5 linked regions of the Homo sapiens genome follow. The protein of the gene in region 4 purifies or fractionates together with the protein of the main gene of each other region. This does not show direct contact. Each region holds a gene or a part of one and is shown on either strand. Other genes may lie near its edges.

Region 1 (3,522 bases), 410 kb from region 4:
TGACTTGTACCAGAAAAGCATCTACTTCCTTCTCCTTTCACCATAAATGCAAATAGGTGTTTGTCACTAAGAGTAGGACACAATAAAAGAAAGTAACACCAGCGGGTGCGGTGGCTCATGCCTGTAATCCCAACACTTTGGGAGGCCAAGGCAGGCGGATCTCCTGAGGTCAAGAGTTTGAGACCAGCCTGGCCAACATGGTGAAACCCTGTCTCTACTAAAAATACAAAAATTAGCCAGTGTGGTGGCGGGCTCCTGTAATCCCAACTACTCGGGAGGCTGAGGCAGGAGAATTGCTTGAACCTGGGAGACGGAGGTTGCGGTGAGCCGAGATACCGCGCCACTGCACTCCAGCCTGGGCGACCGAGTGAGACTCCGGCTCAAAAAAAAAAAAAAAAAAAAAAGAAAATAAAGAAAGTAACCCCAAAATGCCAACCAGGAGAAGAAAATTTGCATTTCTTTTTAAAGAACAGGTCCGCCAGTTGACAGGACTATTATTGTCTAGCACATATAGGACCATGAGATCAGAAAAATCAGGTGTAAATGCTAAAGTTTAGATAAAGAGTCTATAGAGAAAAAGTGGCTGTTCCAGAGGAAGAGAACCTCAGGTACACAGGGCTGCTGCTTCACACATCAAATTCTGTGTTGAACACACACCCAGAGTTATGCAATGGGGAGATCTTATAGGTACATACAGGCACTCTGAAATGACCATCATCCCATGTCTCACTCACGGACCTCAAAGTCAAAATCAGTTGCAATTTTGGATTTAAAAATCAGTCCAATGGAAAAATACACTGGCAACACAAAAATGCTGTATTCATTTTTTGTTGTTTCTTTCCAAAAGATGATCAAAACAAAGATGAGTTTTTCTCCTGTTTTCTTAGCACTTAAATGTGACCCTCTCTCAGAGTAGTAACATGAATGACAGTAAATAGCATTTAAAAATAACGTAAAGGGGCTGGGTGCAGTGGCTCAGGTCTGTCATCCCAGCACTTTGGGAGGCCGAGGGGGGTGGATCACTTGAGGTCAGGAGTTTGAGACCAGCCTGGCGAACATGGCGAAACCCCATCTCTACTAAAACTACAAAAATTAGCTGAGTGTGGTGGCATGCACCTGTAGTCACAGCTATTCAAAGGCTGAGGCAGAAGAATTGCTTGGGCCTGGGAGGCGGAGGCTGCAGTGAGCCGAGATCATGTCACTGCACTCCAGCCTGGGTGACAGAGCGAGCTTCTATCTCTTAAAAAAAAAAAAAGTTAAAGAAAGGAGATGATGCTAGAAAGACTTTGAAGCAAATGTTCATTAATTCAATGTTTTATAATGAGAAAGGTTAGGGTATGGTATAATAAAAAACCCTGGGATATATGCTATGAAGTTGTATTTTCTATAGTTTAGGTAAAAGAAAACTAAAGGTTAGAGGTTAAGTGATTTGCTCTAAGTCATAGAGCTAGCACTAGTACCTACATCTTCTAACCTTCTGGTTTCCCCTTACAGCTTACTATAACTTAGAAAACATTAGACGAAGCCTGCTGGATTCATAGGTTTAATGATAATAATAATAAATAATTTTTACTTGTGGCTTAAAATTATACATTAAAGTTTCTACAATTCTAAGCTTAACAAATAGAAACCCCTTTCCCAAGCCTATTAACATGTAGTACGTGTAATAGGAAGATCTGACATGATTATTTCAGCTACTATATTGGTCATCAGTTGTGGTGTGGTCTATAGGGTCCTTTAAGAGAATGTCTGCCTTGTGGCTCAGACACTAACAACCACCAAAGATGGGAACTAGAGTCTGGTACTTGGAAGCACAGTTATAATCCCTCTCTTCTGTCACCACCACTTACCTTGATGGGTACTTCAGCGAGTAAGCAGCAGCCAAGAATCCACCTAGGTTGTGCCCAAGCAAGATCATTTTGTCCAATCCTAGGGCACATCTCCACTCTTCAATGGATTCCACAAACTGATTCTCCACTTCTTCTGCATCACTGTCAAACCTGGGTCTACTACTTCGTCCAAAACCCAATAGGTCAAAAGCATAGACAGGTCTGTTGGTGCAAAGATCTCCAAAATTCAGTGCCCAGAGCCCAAGACCTCCTCCAAAACCATGGAGAAGGACAAGTGGAGTCTTATTTGAAATATTATGAGAGAACTTCAGTGTCCATATTTTATTTCCATTAGATATACGAACAGGTTCTTTTTTGTATGTGCAAGGCACACCTAATGAAAACATAAAAGAGAAATTCTGTTTCATTTTATTACTTCTGAGAAGGGAAGTATTCTCAGAGCAACCAAAAATTACAAATCATCTAGTATCCAATCTCATGATTTTAGCTTGTATTGTCAGCTATTTTTAAAAAGTACACATTTTATTGAAGTAAATAATCCTAAATGACCATGTTTTACACCTAAAGGGGAAGACCTACCTCAGACAAACCTCAAGTAACCTGTGATCAAGGTCTTTGGCAAGTCATATTACCTTCTAACTTCTTTCCACATCTGTCAAATGAGGGTATTATACTCCTAGAAGTGAAAAGGAACTTAGTGGTTACCGAACCCATTATTTTAAGGTCTCTAGCTTTGCAGAGAATTTGTAGAATACTGTCAGGTGTTCTACAATTTCAAGGTGGTATTCTTTGGTTAACTTTGAGTTGAAGTCAGGCTTAAAGGCATCATTTTTCCTTAAAAAGTAGTCATGAATTTAGGGAAGGATTACTGGTATCTATGTTAAACATGTAAGTGAAACCTTAAGTCATTTCAAAAAAAGGTTGACAAAGTATTGTAGGAACTCCTCAGCATGACACACCAGGTAACTTGGGTCCAACTCTAGTAATCTCCTAGAAAAAGCAAATAGTCACAATTTTATAGACCAAAACTCTTTTTTACCTTTAATGTTGTGGAACTAAATACTTTAAACACTCCCAAAAATTGCCTAAAAATGAAATTAAATTTGAAATCATTTATATTTAACTATCAACTGAACAGCTGCATTTTTGATATACCCCTTAATTATTTATGCATATTCATATACAGTAAACAAGACACTGAAGAAACAGGAGTTTCTGCCTTTTAACCAAAGAAATAATATCATGTTTTGTATCCACATAGTGGCAGCAAAGAAGAAACCTAACATTCATTCAGAATATTAATGGAGCACAAGCCCTCAAGTTGGGGGAAATACCACTAGTTTAGAAAAGGGGCTGCTTTGGCTTAAGTGCCAAGCCAAACCACTTCAGCATTTTGAACACATACGTCTGTGTATTCCCATAAAAACCATCTGTATAACTATTAGAGAACTCACTCCACCGTAGCTTACTTTCATGTCTGACACTAAAGCAGAGACCAATTCACATTCCTATTTGCATCCCTAGAACCAAAAGGAAGGGAATCATTATGTCTGTTAAATGCATGAATTGAGAATCTAGCACCCCTTTTTTACCTCCTGATAAGAATTTTTTTATTTTGGTAAATCACAATGACATCTTTCTTAGTTTTGTAGAGAGCAAGTTTACCCAAGTA
Region 2 (3,522 bases), on a different chromosome or scaffold from region 4:
GAAACACATTTCAACCACAAGTTGTTTACTGTCCTAAGTATCATTTTATCTATTTTCCTTGAAAAAGCAAAGGTCTTGTTTTAATTCATCACTCAAGATACGGGACCAATGGTCAAAAAGACATTCCAAGCCTTCAAACGTTTTACCTGCTTGGGGTTCCGGTTTCTGACGTATCCGGTTTGGGAGAGATTCTCACCTCGTGGGTCATGTTCTCATTATCTCTGAATACACAACACACCTGAACTTTTCTACAGCTTCACTAATCCTGTAGGTGTTTAGCCTGCTGCATTATGTACCAGTCATCTTTCTGCTTTTTTTCTAAATATGGGCCTCTCAAATGCTCTTGCTCTTGACAATTGCTTTATCCTGTGTGCTTCTTTAAAAACATATCAAATGTTTCAATTGCAAATTGGTCTCATGCCACATAAAATTTGGTATTAATTCTAAATACTGAAGTTTCACTCCTTCGTCCCCTCTGTGACTACCACAGCAGAAAGCCTTGAAAATACTGTCATTGCAAGTGGAAGCATGATCCTACATGTGCCCCAGGAGACCCCTCTTCCTTTGTGTTTACAATTGCATAAGAAATTCTGAATCCACACTTTGCAGCCACATTTAGTGTCCTGACACAGAGAAAGGAGAGCCTGGTGGAGCTCTGTAGGATGGCTCAGGACTCCCTTTGCTCCATCCATTTGCACAGCTAGCTGCTATCAGAATTCACGGCAAGGGCGGTCACTGCCTTGGGGGATTTCTGATAGTGTCCCAACACCCTACTTGTAAAATGAAAAATAACTTTGTATTATCCTCTACCCTTTTCTCCAAGGTTGCATGTCTCCTATTTTGATCTGAACTGGCTGATCTGCAATGCCCTTAAGACTTAATATCAGATTTCTGCTTTAATAACAATAACGACATTAGATATACTGTTACAGAATATGTGTCTAATAACAAACAAATTAAAGCCCTCGAAATTCAGACCTTGCCTCATTTACTACCATGTCAAACATGATGGCTGTATAGTAAATACGGCAAAAAGCCCCTCAGGGAGATTGTTTACACATGGCTCTGTCTGCATTGGCAAAAAAAGCAAAAAAAAACAAAAAAAACCCAACTTCCTGTATCCTAATATTTAGTATATTCTTACATTTTAAATAACTGAGAAAGAAAAGAGTGAAGAACGTAATTATTGATTCTCAAGTTTAATTTTAGGGGAGCAATGAAAGGATATGCACAAATACCAATGGCCCTTTGTAAGAGTTTCAAATTACTACACTTTATAATCTTTGTTCCTGACACGTGTGTCACATGTCATCTGTTACACACTGTGGTCATTTCTCCCAGCTGAAACCCTGTTTGTGGATATAAAACTCTTCTACATGGTTTAGAGCAGATGGTGAAGCATATGCCTCTACTTCCTGGGTTGCCTTTCTTCTGATTTCCATATGATAGAGTCTGCCTTGAGGGCCTCCACAGCATTTAAAGAAATCAAAACGGTTAATGAAAGACACAGTTAGATAAACACTCCAAGATGATCTCAGGCTTAAAATATAGCCAAAGTAAATTCAAAGGAACACAGACAGTCCTTTTCTTCATTATGAGGCCACTCAACTCGCCTCCCGATCTCCAATGGAATAACAGATATACCTTCTTAACAAAAAAATGCCTGAGCACCAAGGTGTTCCTGCTCACCCGCCCTCCCTCCCCAGATGGTTTTAATTGCTCAAGGGCAGCACAGGGCCCCCAGAACTCACTTCAAAGGCCTCAAACCAGTTCTGCTTCCTGATGTGTTCTATGCATTCATGGCACTGCTTCTGGAAGTACTTTTTTTGCTTCTCATCCAACAAGCCAATTTGGTACAGGAATTCTGCATAGCCCCCTATAATCTGAGGACAAAAAAGACACACATCAATGTGACAAAGGGAGAGAAAGAGACCTTAAGGAAGCCCATTTGCTTGGTGAAATAATCCTTTGTAATTGTTAATATTGTGCTGGTTAGCCAAGTAGGATAATTACATGCACACACACATATACACCCCACAACACACACAACAGAACACAACACAATACAAACACACACACATTTGCACTGACAGCCAATGTAAGCTGACACAGTAAATTGATACGTTGAAACATTTGGTAAAAATTAGGAGATTTAAGTCATAAAGTCAACTGGTGTTTCCCTTATCAAAAGTTAGACCTCTAAGAGGAGCCTTCCATCTGATAAAAAGGCATTTAATCCCCCTAAGAGACAAAATAGAAAGTCAGAAGGAGAAACCTACTGATTCGGGATCAGAATATCCATCTCCAATAGCAATTCCGTTCAGGTTGATCTTCACCTCTCTCACAGGGTTGAGGGAATGGATGAGGTGTGCAATGGCTGGCACATATTTCCCTGCATAAGACTGAGAAGGACAGATGTTGAAATGGCCAATCACAAATGGATGCTAGTAAAATTAAATGTACTTAAGCTAATTAAAATAACAATGAAGGAGCAATCTTTCCACATGAGGTATACCATCTGTTTCTTAACCCCACATTATAGATTCCATAATAGCAAAAACCTCTGTCTTCCAATTCTTTTGTCGTCTCAAATAGCACCACATGACATGAACAGGTTCGATGCACAAAAAATCACAAGTGAACATGTAATAAGTGAACATTCTAATTTCCTTCCAAAATAAAATAACTTGGGAGAACACAATTCTGCCATGTGTTAGGCATCTCTTACCAGAAAGCTCTATTCAAAGATTAGAGGGAAAAAAATCTCAAGTTTAAAATTAAGATTTCAAAATCTGATAATGCTGCAAATTTTGAAATCAACATGTACTAAAGGAATAGGAGAAGCAGAAAAGGAAAATAATATTTATTGGCCACTAAAATTTTCACTTGAACTCATCTCTATTTCCAAACTTTTCCAGCACAAGGTCCTTTTTCAAGGTCAGAATATTTTGTAGATATATTTCCCCTAACAAACATGGTAACGGTTCTACTTTAAGACTGTGCTGGAAGAGCTACTATTGACTCAGCAGTATTTTTCAAATAATTTTGCATTTTGCATTCTTTCCATCAAAAGTTGCCTTCTTGATATCTCCACTTGTATGTCTAATATTAAACTGCACATGTTCAAAATAAAGCTCCCAATCCCCAACCCTGAGGCAGCCTCCCTTTCATCTCATGTTAATTCTGTTTCTCCCCTGCTCAGGCCAACAATCTTGGTGCCATTCGTTATATCTCTCTTTGTCTCGTATTCCACAGAAGTCAATCAGCCAAGCTTGTCAGCTCTACCTATTCTAACAAAATCTGTCCAGAGTCCAATGTCTTCTCACAACCCCTTCTCCATCACATCATCTCTGGCCTGGATGACTGCAGTAGACTCCTCATTGGCCTCCTTCTTTTGCCCTTATCCTTTAATGACTTCCCATCTTCCCAAAAGCAAAGGCATAAGGGCTGACATGATCTGCTCCCTTCTCTACCCTCAACCCCTGCCACCCTCTCGCTCATTCCTTTCCAGCCCATTGGGTT
Region 3 (3,522 bases), on a different chromosome or scaffold from region 4:
CATGCCTGTAATCCCAGCACTTCGGGACGCCAAGATAGGCAGATCACCTGAGGTCAGGAGTTCGAGACCAGCCTGGCCAACATGGTGAAACCCCGTACAAAAATTAGCCAGGCATGGCGATGCACATCTGTAATCTCAACTACTCGGGAGGCTGAGGCCAGAAAATTGCTTGAACCTGGGAGGTGGAGGTTGCAGTGAGCCGAGATTGCACCATTGCACCACTGCACTCCAGCCAGGGCAAGAGCGAGACTCCGTCTTTAAAAAAAAAAGAATCAGGGTCTTGCTGTGTTGCCCACACTAAAGTATAATGCCTGTGCACTTGAACTCCTGGCCTCAAGCAATCCTTCTGCCTCAGCCTCCTGAGTAGCTTGGACTACAGGCACATGCTACCGCACCTGGCCTTAGCCTTCATTTTAAGCAAGACTTTGGCATAAAGTCTTAAAAGGTGTGTGTGTGTGTGTGTGTGTGTGTGTGTCTGTCTGTCTGTCTGTCTCTGGATCAGTAAGTCTTACCTAAGTCTTCATTTTAAGCAAGACTTTGGCATAAAGTCTTAGAAGAGGGGTGTGTGTGTGTGTGTCTGTCTCTGGATCAGTAAGTCTTACCTAAAAAACATTACCTAAAAAGCATAGCCAAACAAGTGTCAGAACTAGAACGGCAGATTAGAACAACTGCTTAAGAACTGGGAAATGAAACAGTAGTTCCCATATTCTTTTGAGACATCTATAGTCTAAGAGGACACCCAATAAATGTCTGCTGAATAAACAAGGTGCTGCAGCAATAAGTCGCTGGGGTGCGGAGTAGGAACCTGCAAACTGGTTAGCATCAGCTGCTTTGGAGGAAAAACTAGTTTCACATAAAATGTAAAACAAAAAGTGGAACCCAGTATTATAGCAGTACTCTTACCACTCTTGAGAAGAGCCTTAGGGTCTCCAAATCTTCTAAAATGTTGCTGTTTTTGGTAGTGATCAGTACCATATACAGTTTCTCCATAGGCTGGTAGACATATCTTACACTCTCTGTTTCAACAAACGTATGTTGTTTTCCAGTGTTCATGAGCTTTGGAAAAGCTGCTAATAAGCCCTCAATCCGAGTTCGGGTCATTTCCACAAACTGTCGAGAAACAATAGCCTTTCCTGCTTTTGTGCAGACCGCTGCTGCCAACAGCACCTGCCAGGAACATATGCATAAGTAAGTACTAATTATTTCTTCACATCTGTTTTCTCAGCATCTCAGGAAATGTTCCATAGAATGACATATTTATTTAGTGACATGACTAGTAGTAGTATTATTTTTAAGACAGGGTCTCACTCTGTCACCCATGCCGGAGTGCAATGGCAAGACCACAGCTCACTACAACCTCAAACTCCTGGGCTCAAGAAATCCTGAGTGGCTGGGACTACAAGTGTGTGCCACCAAGCCTCGCTAATTTTTAAAAAGCTTTTAGTAGAGACAGTATCTCGCTATGTTTCCCAGGCTGGTCTTGAACTCCTGGGTTCAAGCGATCCTCCTGCCTTGGCCTCCCAAAGTGCTGGGATTATAGGCGTGAACTACCACGACCAGCTGACATGACAAGTAATAGAATACTGACTTTCACGGGCACAGTGGCTCACACCTGTAAACTCAGCACTTTGGGAGGCCAAAGCGAGTGGATTACTTGAGGTCAGGAGTTCGAGACCAGCCTGACCAACATGGTGAAACCCCATCTCTACTAAAAATACAAACACATTAAGAGACTTAGACATGTCAATCAATCACAATGTATAAATCAAATTTGAACAGTGACTGAATAATTGATAATATTAAAAATTATTGCTAATTTTTTAGGTGTGAAAATATGCTATCATGGTAATATATTTTTATGTAAGGAATACTTATATATTTTTAAAAAAGAGTTGTGTAGTTTTGAATCCTTCCATAGTCTCTCATATTAAAGGTGCTCCCTCAATGACTTTATATTGAACTAAAATAATTGTCTGGGATACATCTTATCTTCAAACTACGCTAGTTTTGCATGTAGTACTAACAAAAGGTCACTGGATTTAGTAATTATCCTGAGGATCAGAATTCACAATTTCTTTCTTTTTTTTTGGAGACAGGGTCTCACTTTGTCACCTAAGCTGGACTGTAATGGTGCAATCTTGGCTCACCGTAGCCTCAACTTCTGGGCTTGAACAATCCTCCTGCCTCAGCCCCCTGAAAGGAGCTGGGACTATAGGCAGGTGCCATCATGCCTGGCAAATTTTTGTATTTTCGGTAGAAGTGGGGTTTCACCATGTTGCCCAGGCTGGTCTTGAACTTCTGGACTCAAGTGATCAGCCCACCTTGGCCTCCCAAAGTGCTGGGATTACAAGCATGAGTCACCACGCCTAGCCAGAACTCACAATTTCATGTGTTGAATATCAGTTACAAAATATTCCTTTTAAAAGCAACTATCCTAATATTATATAAATGGGTTTTTATGACTTGGGATAAAATTTCCCAAACTGCCAATATATCACACATGGATTCAAAACTGCTAAATACCAAACTGATGATTCAAAAAGTGGCCCCAGTGATGACATGATGTTCATAAAGAATCTAGAAAAAATTGTTTTATTAATATGAAAATGGAAAAAAGTAATTATTTCTAAATTAAACTTTATTTATTTAAAACATATACATATAAGTGAATTATTAACTATTTTAAGAACATATTTGACTATTTTTGCTACCTTTTTTTTTTTTAAGATGGAGTTTTGCTCTTGTTGCCCAGGCTGGAGTGCAATGGCAAGATCTCCGCTCACTGAAACCTCCACCTCCCAGGTTCAAGTGATTCTCCTGTCTCAGCCTCCCGAGTAGCTGGGATTACAGGCGCCTGCCACCACGCCCGGCTAATTTTTTTTTTTTTTTTTGTATTTCTAGTAGAGATGGGGTTTCACCATGTTGGTTGGCCAGGCTGGTCTCAAATGCCTGACCTCGGGTGATCTGCCCACCTCGGCCTCCCAAAGTGCTGAGATTACAGGCATGAGCCACCGCCCGGCCTATTTTGGCTGCATTTTAAAAAGTTTATACAATTGGCAAAAAGCTTTCCTTCTTAATAGTTTCATCAGAAAAGTAGGGAATTCCCTTATATTTGGGATCATTTCACATTGGTTTCTCCTTTTCCTAAAGACTTAGAACTAGTGTCCCAAATTTGCAAAGAACCAAGCTGATATTAGAAAAACTAAATGACTGGGAGTGAGAAAATCTATTTTCTAGTTTTGTTCTTCTATTTACTATCTGCCTGACCTTCAGTTACCCAACCTCTCTTAACCTCGTTTCTTTTCCTATAAAATGCAGCATTATCTAATGACCTTACAAGCTATTATGAGGGCCAAATGACTATAATGAAACTGTACTTCAGAAGTGCTATACAACTTGTAGCACATATATTCATGATGTAAAACAGCACCATTAGTAATAATAAACATGCATCTCATGAAAAAAATTTATGCCACTTCAAGGTAATGGATTTTTCTTTTTTTATTAAAAAAAAAAAAAAAA
Region 4 (3,522 bases):
AAACACTAAGTCATTTTCATTAACAAATAATTTGAGCCTTAACTGTACAGGACACAACACAGTCCCTGTCCATTCAAATCTTAAAAATGATTTAGGAAAACAGGACCTACAGTTCAGCAAACCACCATGGCACATGTATATCTATGTAACAAACCTGCACATTCTGTACATGTATCCCAGTACTTAAAAAAAAGAAAAGAAAATAGTATCCCCATATAAAAAGAGAAATAATTACACAAGTGAGCCTAGGTGAGGCATGTCAGAGGAAGAATAGAGGACACTATAGATGGCAGGCTCACCAAGGACTGGTGCAGCCCACAGACCAGGGCTTATCCTTCAACAGGAGTAGAGGAACACCATTCCTGAAAGTGGGGTAAACAAGAAACAAAGTAAGAGTGCCTACAGCTGGCTGGCTTAGGAAAGAACACCAGTTTAGGTGAAGTGATGATTTGGGAGTGGAAGTCAGATAAATTTTAAGAGAGGCAGCTGATTCTGAAGAATACCTACAGCTGATTCTGAAGAATACCTACTGGCTCATCATTTAAGCAACCGTGCTGGACAAAACAAATGGAAAATTTGCCATACTAACTAATTCACCACATATCTGTGTTTGAATTATACTTAAGTTTAGTCAAAGCGTCATTAAAGAATAAAAAATGCACAGGAAAAGCTTCTCATCAAAGAGCCTCAATGAAAGAGGAAAATCCTTTACATATTAACATGAAAGCAACACAGAAATAAGCTTATTAGAGAATTCAAACAAATTTTAAAAGTTCATTGTTCACTACAAAGTTCCATAAAACACTACATTTTTGTTGTGGCTTAATAGATCTCTCTCGTTATCACCCATATACATACTACTAAAAATCTATTAGTAACCTAAGCAGGTTTATACAGAAACGAGTAAAGCAAAACCATGGATTTTTGTCTTATTTCTAATTTTTAAAATGTCTTTTGCTGCCTCAGTTGGCCATTAGAATTCCAGTTTTGTTTGAATGCAGGTCTCAAAATGAGAAAACAGATTTTAATTTCTAGGAATCTATGTATGTACTGCACTTTTTACATTATATCATTTAATTCCTTAAGAGTGATACCCATTTTACAAATGAAAAAGCAGGGCCAAGCCAATGAGGTTACAAACTCACTTTGTCCAGGTCCTACACCCAGTTAAGAGTTGCCTGGGGGCGAGGGAACATCAGAGGAGGAGCTAGGATAACAGTCCTAAGATTCCACATTTCAAAGTACCACATAGTTAACTTTTCTTATTATCTTCACCATAGAGGTACACTTCAGGAATGATCAGAATTCATTTATTAAGCACATATGCAGAGTGGCATGACAGCACAGTGGAAAGAGTACCACAGGATCTACAGCCCAACAAGTTACTCAACTTCTATGAAAAGGCATGTCTTGATAAAATAAAGATAATCACCACCTTGGACAGTTATTGTGAAAGTTAAATGGGATAATATATATTAGCAGGGTGTGAGTAGAATACAAATCACCTAAGGATTTTATCCCCCTAACTTTAGAACTGGCCTCCCTCCCATGAGATTACAGTATTTGAAAGGGGTTGTATATATAGTTCTCCATCTCATTTTCTTATCAGTAACCTCATCCTCTATTGGCCCAACAAACTGGCCCCTAAACACCTGTACTGGATACTAGGAAGGTCTCTGTCTCAACTTATTCACAGTCTCTTACGGGAACAGATACGCAAAAAGAGGTGTTCTTTTCTCCTAAATCTGCCTTGGAGAATGCCACAGACAGCATTCTGGAGAAATAAATTTTGTGTGTTTGAGCTAAGAACTGAAACTGGCAACGGTAAGGAAGAGGCTTTTCAGGAAAGAGGCCCAAGGAAGTTTAGTATGACTCAGACAACAATATATGCAGAGCGCAGGGGACAAGGTCAGGCATGTATTCCATATAATTCATCAATTTCTACTTCTTAGGTCTAGGCTAGCCCTTACCCATGCTCTAGGGCCCAGCTTAAAGGACGACTTCCTGACCATCCCCTTGCCCTCCCCAACTCCATGCACATACAGCTCCCTATACTCACTCACAGCACTGTGTCCTTTGCCATTATGACCCTTATCACAAATGTGAGGTCATATAATTATTTGTGTGACTGTGTGGTTAATAATCTGTGTCCCCCACTAAACTAAATGACAGGCTCAGTTCACATAAGGATCATGTTCATTTTATTTAGTTCTTTATCCCAGGGTCTGCCAAGTATAGCATCTACTCAAAATATACAGATATATTTTATTAAATGAACAAATGAAGGCTAGCATAAAGAGCCAAAAACAAGAGCTCAAGAAAAATCCTGAGCAGGAGAATGGCAATCAGAGATGATGGTTTAACAAATTACTCTGGCAGCAAAGTGAAGATCAGACTGAAAGGGCGAGAATAGAGCTAGAAGACAGGTAAGCAGACAACTGAAAATGTCTCCAGGTAAATTACTTAAAGACTTAAAAATGAGGGCAGCTGGTATATGGGCAGTGATGATAAGGATGTTGTGGAGGAGACACATTTTGGAAGTAGAATCCAAGAACTCAATGCACAGGAGGCTAAGCAAAGGGAGAAATCCAGAATGACTCTAGCGGAGAGTGGTAGCTGGTGATGCCATTCTCTCAGACTGGACTTTCAGGACAGGAACATCTACAACATGCTAGCAGAAAGTAGAGGATTTGCTTCTAGTTCTAAAATTGTATGATTGAAAAACAATTCAAATCCAACCCAGCTTTATTAGAAAGGGTGTGGTTTCCATAACAAGCTGATAAAATCAACAAATTAAAGATTAGATTTTTTTACCTTCTTCACCAAGACACTTCTTGGTACAGACTATGTACCCGGCATTACTTGGGTCTGATAATGTACAGATCAAAGAAGTAGTCTCTGCCTTCAAAGAGCTGACAGTATTATGGGTTTAAGAGAGATAACTGCAGGTCAACAATTAAGAAATTGAGGCCCAGTGAGGCTGCGATTTGACCACCGTTATGTTGTGTAATCCAGGTTCCTGGAGCATTTTTGTCATAACCTACATTAAACGGTCCAGGCAAATATTAGTCAAGAGGGTATGTGTTTAGATGTGCAGATAGACCTAATCTTGCTTTGGGCCTGAAGATACTCCAAAACTTAAAACATGTTAGATGAACAACTAATGATCTCTGAGTCTGAAGTAACTTTTGAGTAGCCACATGGCAGCAGACTAGGGGGCATAATAGCAAAAGGAAAGGGAAAGAGGCCTGATTTGCCATGGAACAGCCTACCTGAGCAGAGGCCAAATGCTGGGGATGCCAAAGCAGACTCTCAGGAGGCTCTGGAAGTGACAGCAGAGAAATAAATGTTCAGGGAGGGCAAAGCAGGAATCCTCTTTAGACAGGTTCCTTCCCTACCACCAGCAAGAAATGGTTTCCCATGAGACACAGAGCCACAACCCAAAGCAGATGTGCAGAAAAGCAGATGAGGATCAATGACGTAGCTCTGGATTATCCAGAGCAGACAACACAGTTCCAGTGC
Region 5 (2,388 bases), on a different chromosome or scaffold from region 4:
CTGCCCGTCTCAGCCTTCCAAAGTGCTGGGATTATAGGCGTGAGCCACTGCGCCCGGCCTATCATTGCTGTATTTCAAGTACCTGTTTACCTTGTAGGGTCTGCCCTACCAAATTAAAAGCTTTAAAGGATGGACCGACTGCTTGCCATTTGTCTCTGTATAATTAACACTTACACAGTTCCTCATTATGTTTTCTTGATCCTGTTACTTAGATCCTCTGCCTTATCTATAAAGGGACTGGGCAGTTTGTTAAGGGCCAAAAATAGGCTTTTGTCTTCCCTTTCTAATCCCGGAGAACTGAAGATCAAGCTGTAAGGTGTAACTGCTAGTGCAGGGGCTTACACAAGACGTCTCATGAAAGGGCTGACTTACTGCGATGTTGTGACTGTTGGCACTGTTCTCTCCCAGAGCTTGGAGAAGCTGATCAATAGAGGAGTATGGAAGCCACACCATTGGGGCTGTTGCGGACAGTGGAAACTAAAAGGAAAATGTTTATTTGAAAACAGTCTGCAAAGTGTACCATTTCTTCTGGGTAGTTGCTTTCATAGGACTCTGTAGAATAAAATACCCTTTTTTTTTTTTTTTTTGAGATGGTCTTGTTCTGTCGCCCAGGCTGAGTGCAGTGGCACAATCTCAGCTCACTGCAACCTCCGCCTCCTGGGCTCAAGCAATTCTTGTGCCTCAGCCTCTTGAGTAGCTGGACTACAGATGTGCACCACCATGCCTAGCTAATTTTTTTATGTTTATTTTTAGTAGAGATGGGGTTTCACCATGTTGGACAGGCTGGTCTCAAACTCCTGGCCTCAAGTGATCCACCTGCCTTGGCCTCCGAAAGTGAGCCACTGTGCCCGGCAAAATAAAATGCATTTTTTCCCCCAACCACAAGAAACTGTGTGTATACATGTGCATGCACACAATGGGAACCCTCTTTTCTCCAACTGGGAAACTTGTCATTTTTTTCGGTTAAATATATTTAAAAATTCATGTCGGCTGGGCCTGTAATTCCAACGTTTTGGGAGGCCGAGGTGGGCGGATCACAAGGTCAGGAGTTCGAGACCAGCCTGGCCAATATGGTGAAACCCCGTCTCTACTAAAAATACAAAAATTAGCCAGGTGTGGTGGCACAGATGTAGTCCCAGCTGCTCGGGAGGCTGAGGCTGAAGAATTGCTTGAACCCGGGAGGCGGAGGTTACAGTGAGCCGAGATCATGCCACTGCACTCAAGCCTGGGCGACAGAGCGAGACTCCGTCTTGGAAAAAATAAAAAAATAAAAATAAAAAATAATTTCATGTCAACTTTCTTTTTTTTTTCAGACAGGGTCTCACTCTGTCACTCAGGCTGGAGTGTAGTGGCATGATCATAGCTCACTGTACCCTCAACCTCCAGGGCTCATGTGATCCTCCCACCTCAGCTTCCCACATAGCTGGGACTATAGGCACGCACCACCATGACCAGCTAATTTTTTTCTATTTTTTGTAGATAAAGGTTCTCACTATGTTGCCAAGGCTGGTCTTAACCTCTGGGTTTAAACGATCCTCACACCTTGACCTCCGAAAGTGCTAGGATTACAGGTGTGAGCTATTGCACCTGGCTGATTTCATGAGGGTTGAAGCTGTAGTTAACTACACCTATTTAGACCTGGCTCTTCTATTATATTTGCCATCTGTATGAGCCTGTGATAACCTCTGAGCCTGTTCCCTCATGGGTTAAAAAATAGAAAATTAAAACATTCCTTCATAAGGCTGCTATAAGGATTAAATAAAAAAATGCTTGTAGAGACTTAACACAGTCCCGGCACACACACAATACCATTTTGTTTATCTCTCTCCACTGAATCCTAACTAATGCCATATTATTTTGATAGAGAAAGATGAAATTCCTATTTTATAAACAGGAGACTAGAGATTCCTAGAGTGTCAATATTTAGTTGTATAACTACAGATAGTAAAGGTTAAATACACTAACATATAGTTCAATTTACTCTCAGATTCTCACCTTACATAGCATGATAATAAAAAGAAATGCCTAGGCCGGGCATGGTGGCTCACATGGGTAATCCCAGCACTTTGGGAGGCCGAGGTGGGTGGATCACTTGAGGTTAGGAGTTCCGAGACCAGCCTGGCCAACATGGTGAAGCCCCATCTCTACCAAAAATATTAAAAAATTAGCTGGATGTGGTGGCAGGTGCCTGTAATCCCAGCTACTCAGGAGGCTGAGGCAGGAGAATCACTTGAACCCGGGAGGCGGAGGCTGCAGTGAGGGAGTAAGTGGAGGCTGCATCACTGCACTCCAGCTTGGGCAACAGAGCAAAACTCAGTTAAAAAAAAAAAAAAATATATATATATATATATATATATATATATATATATATATATATATATATATATG

What was found.
Region 1: the proteins of SNRK (region 4) and ABHD5 purify together in Homo sapiens (affinity purification with mass spectrometry; one large-scale study listed by BioGRID and IntAct). This does not show direct contact.
Region 2: the proteins of SNRK (region 4) and CPVL purify together in Homo sapiens (affinity purification with mass spectrometry; one large-scale study listed by BioGRID and IntAct). This does not show direct contact.
Region 3: the proteins of SNRK (region 4) and ARCN1 purify together in Homo sapiens (affinity purification with mass spectrometry; one large-scale study listed by BioGRID and IntAct). This does not show direct contact.
Region 5: the proteins of SNRK (region 4) and NUP160 purify together in Homo sapiens (affinity purification with mass spectrometry; one large-scale study listed by BioGRID and IntAct). This does not show direct contact.

What each region holds. Positions count from the first base shown.
Region 1 is NC_000003.12:43,700,916-43,704,437, reverse strand, and holds part of ABHD5 (1-acylglycerol-3-phosphate O-acyltransferase ABHD5), read right to left. Parts: intron 2,224-3,522; coding exon 1,851-2,223; intron 1-1,850. UniProt on the Homo sapiens protein: Coenzyme A-dependent lysophosphatidic acid acyltransferase that catalyzes the transfer of an acyl group on a lysophosphatidic acid.
Region 2 is NC_000007.14:29,070,022-29,073,543, forward strand, and holds part of CPVL (probable serine carboxypeptidase CPVL isoform b precursor), read right to left. Parts: intron 2,445-3,522; coding exon of another isoform or gene 2,403-2,444; coding exon 2,280-2,402; intron 1,884-2,279; coding exon 1,752-1,883; intron 1-1,751. UniProt on the Homo sapiens protein: May be involved in the digestion of phagocytosed particles in the lysosome, participation in an inflammatory protease cascade, and trimming of peptides for antigen presentation.
Region 3 is NC_000011.10:118,578,891-118,582,412, reverse strand, and holds part of ARCN1 (coatomer subunit delta), read right to left. Parts: intron 1,168-3,522; coding exon 904-1,167; intron 1-903. UniProt on the Homo sapiens protein: Component of the coatomer, a cytosolic protein complex that binds to dilysine motifs and reversibly associates with Golgi non-clathrin-coated vesicles, which further mediate biosynthetic protein transport from the ER, via the Golgi up to the trans Golgi network.
Region 4 is NC_000003.12:43,289,540-43,293,061, reverse strand, and holds part of SNRK (SNF-related serine/threonine-protein kinase), read right to left. Parts: intron 3,323-3,522; exon of another isoform or gene 3,273-3,322; intron 1-3,272. UniProt on the Homo sapiens protein: May play a role in hematopoietic cell proliferation or differentiation. Potential mediator of neuronal apoptosis.
Region 5 is NC_000011.10:47,779,971-47,782,358, forward strand, and holds part of NUP160 (nuclear pore complex protein Nup160), read right to left. Parts: intron 478-2,388; coding exon 373-477; intron 1-372. UniProt on the Homo sapiens protein: Functions as a component of the nuclear pore complex (NPC). Involved in poly(A)+ RNA transport.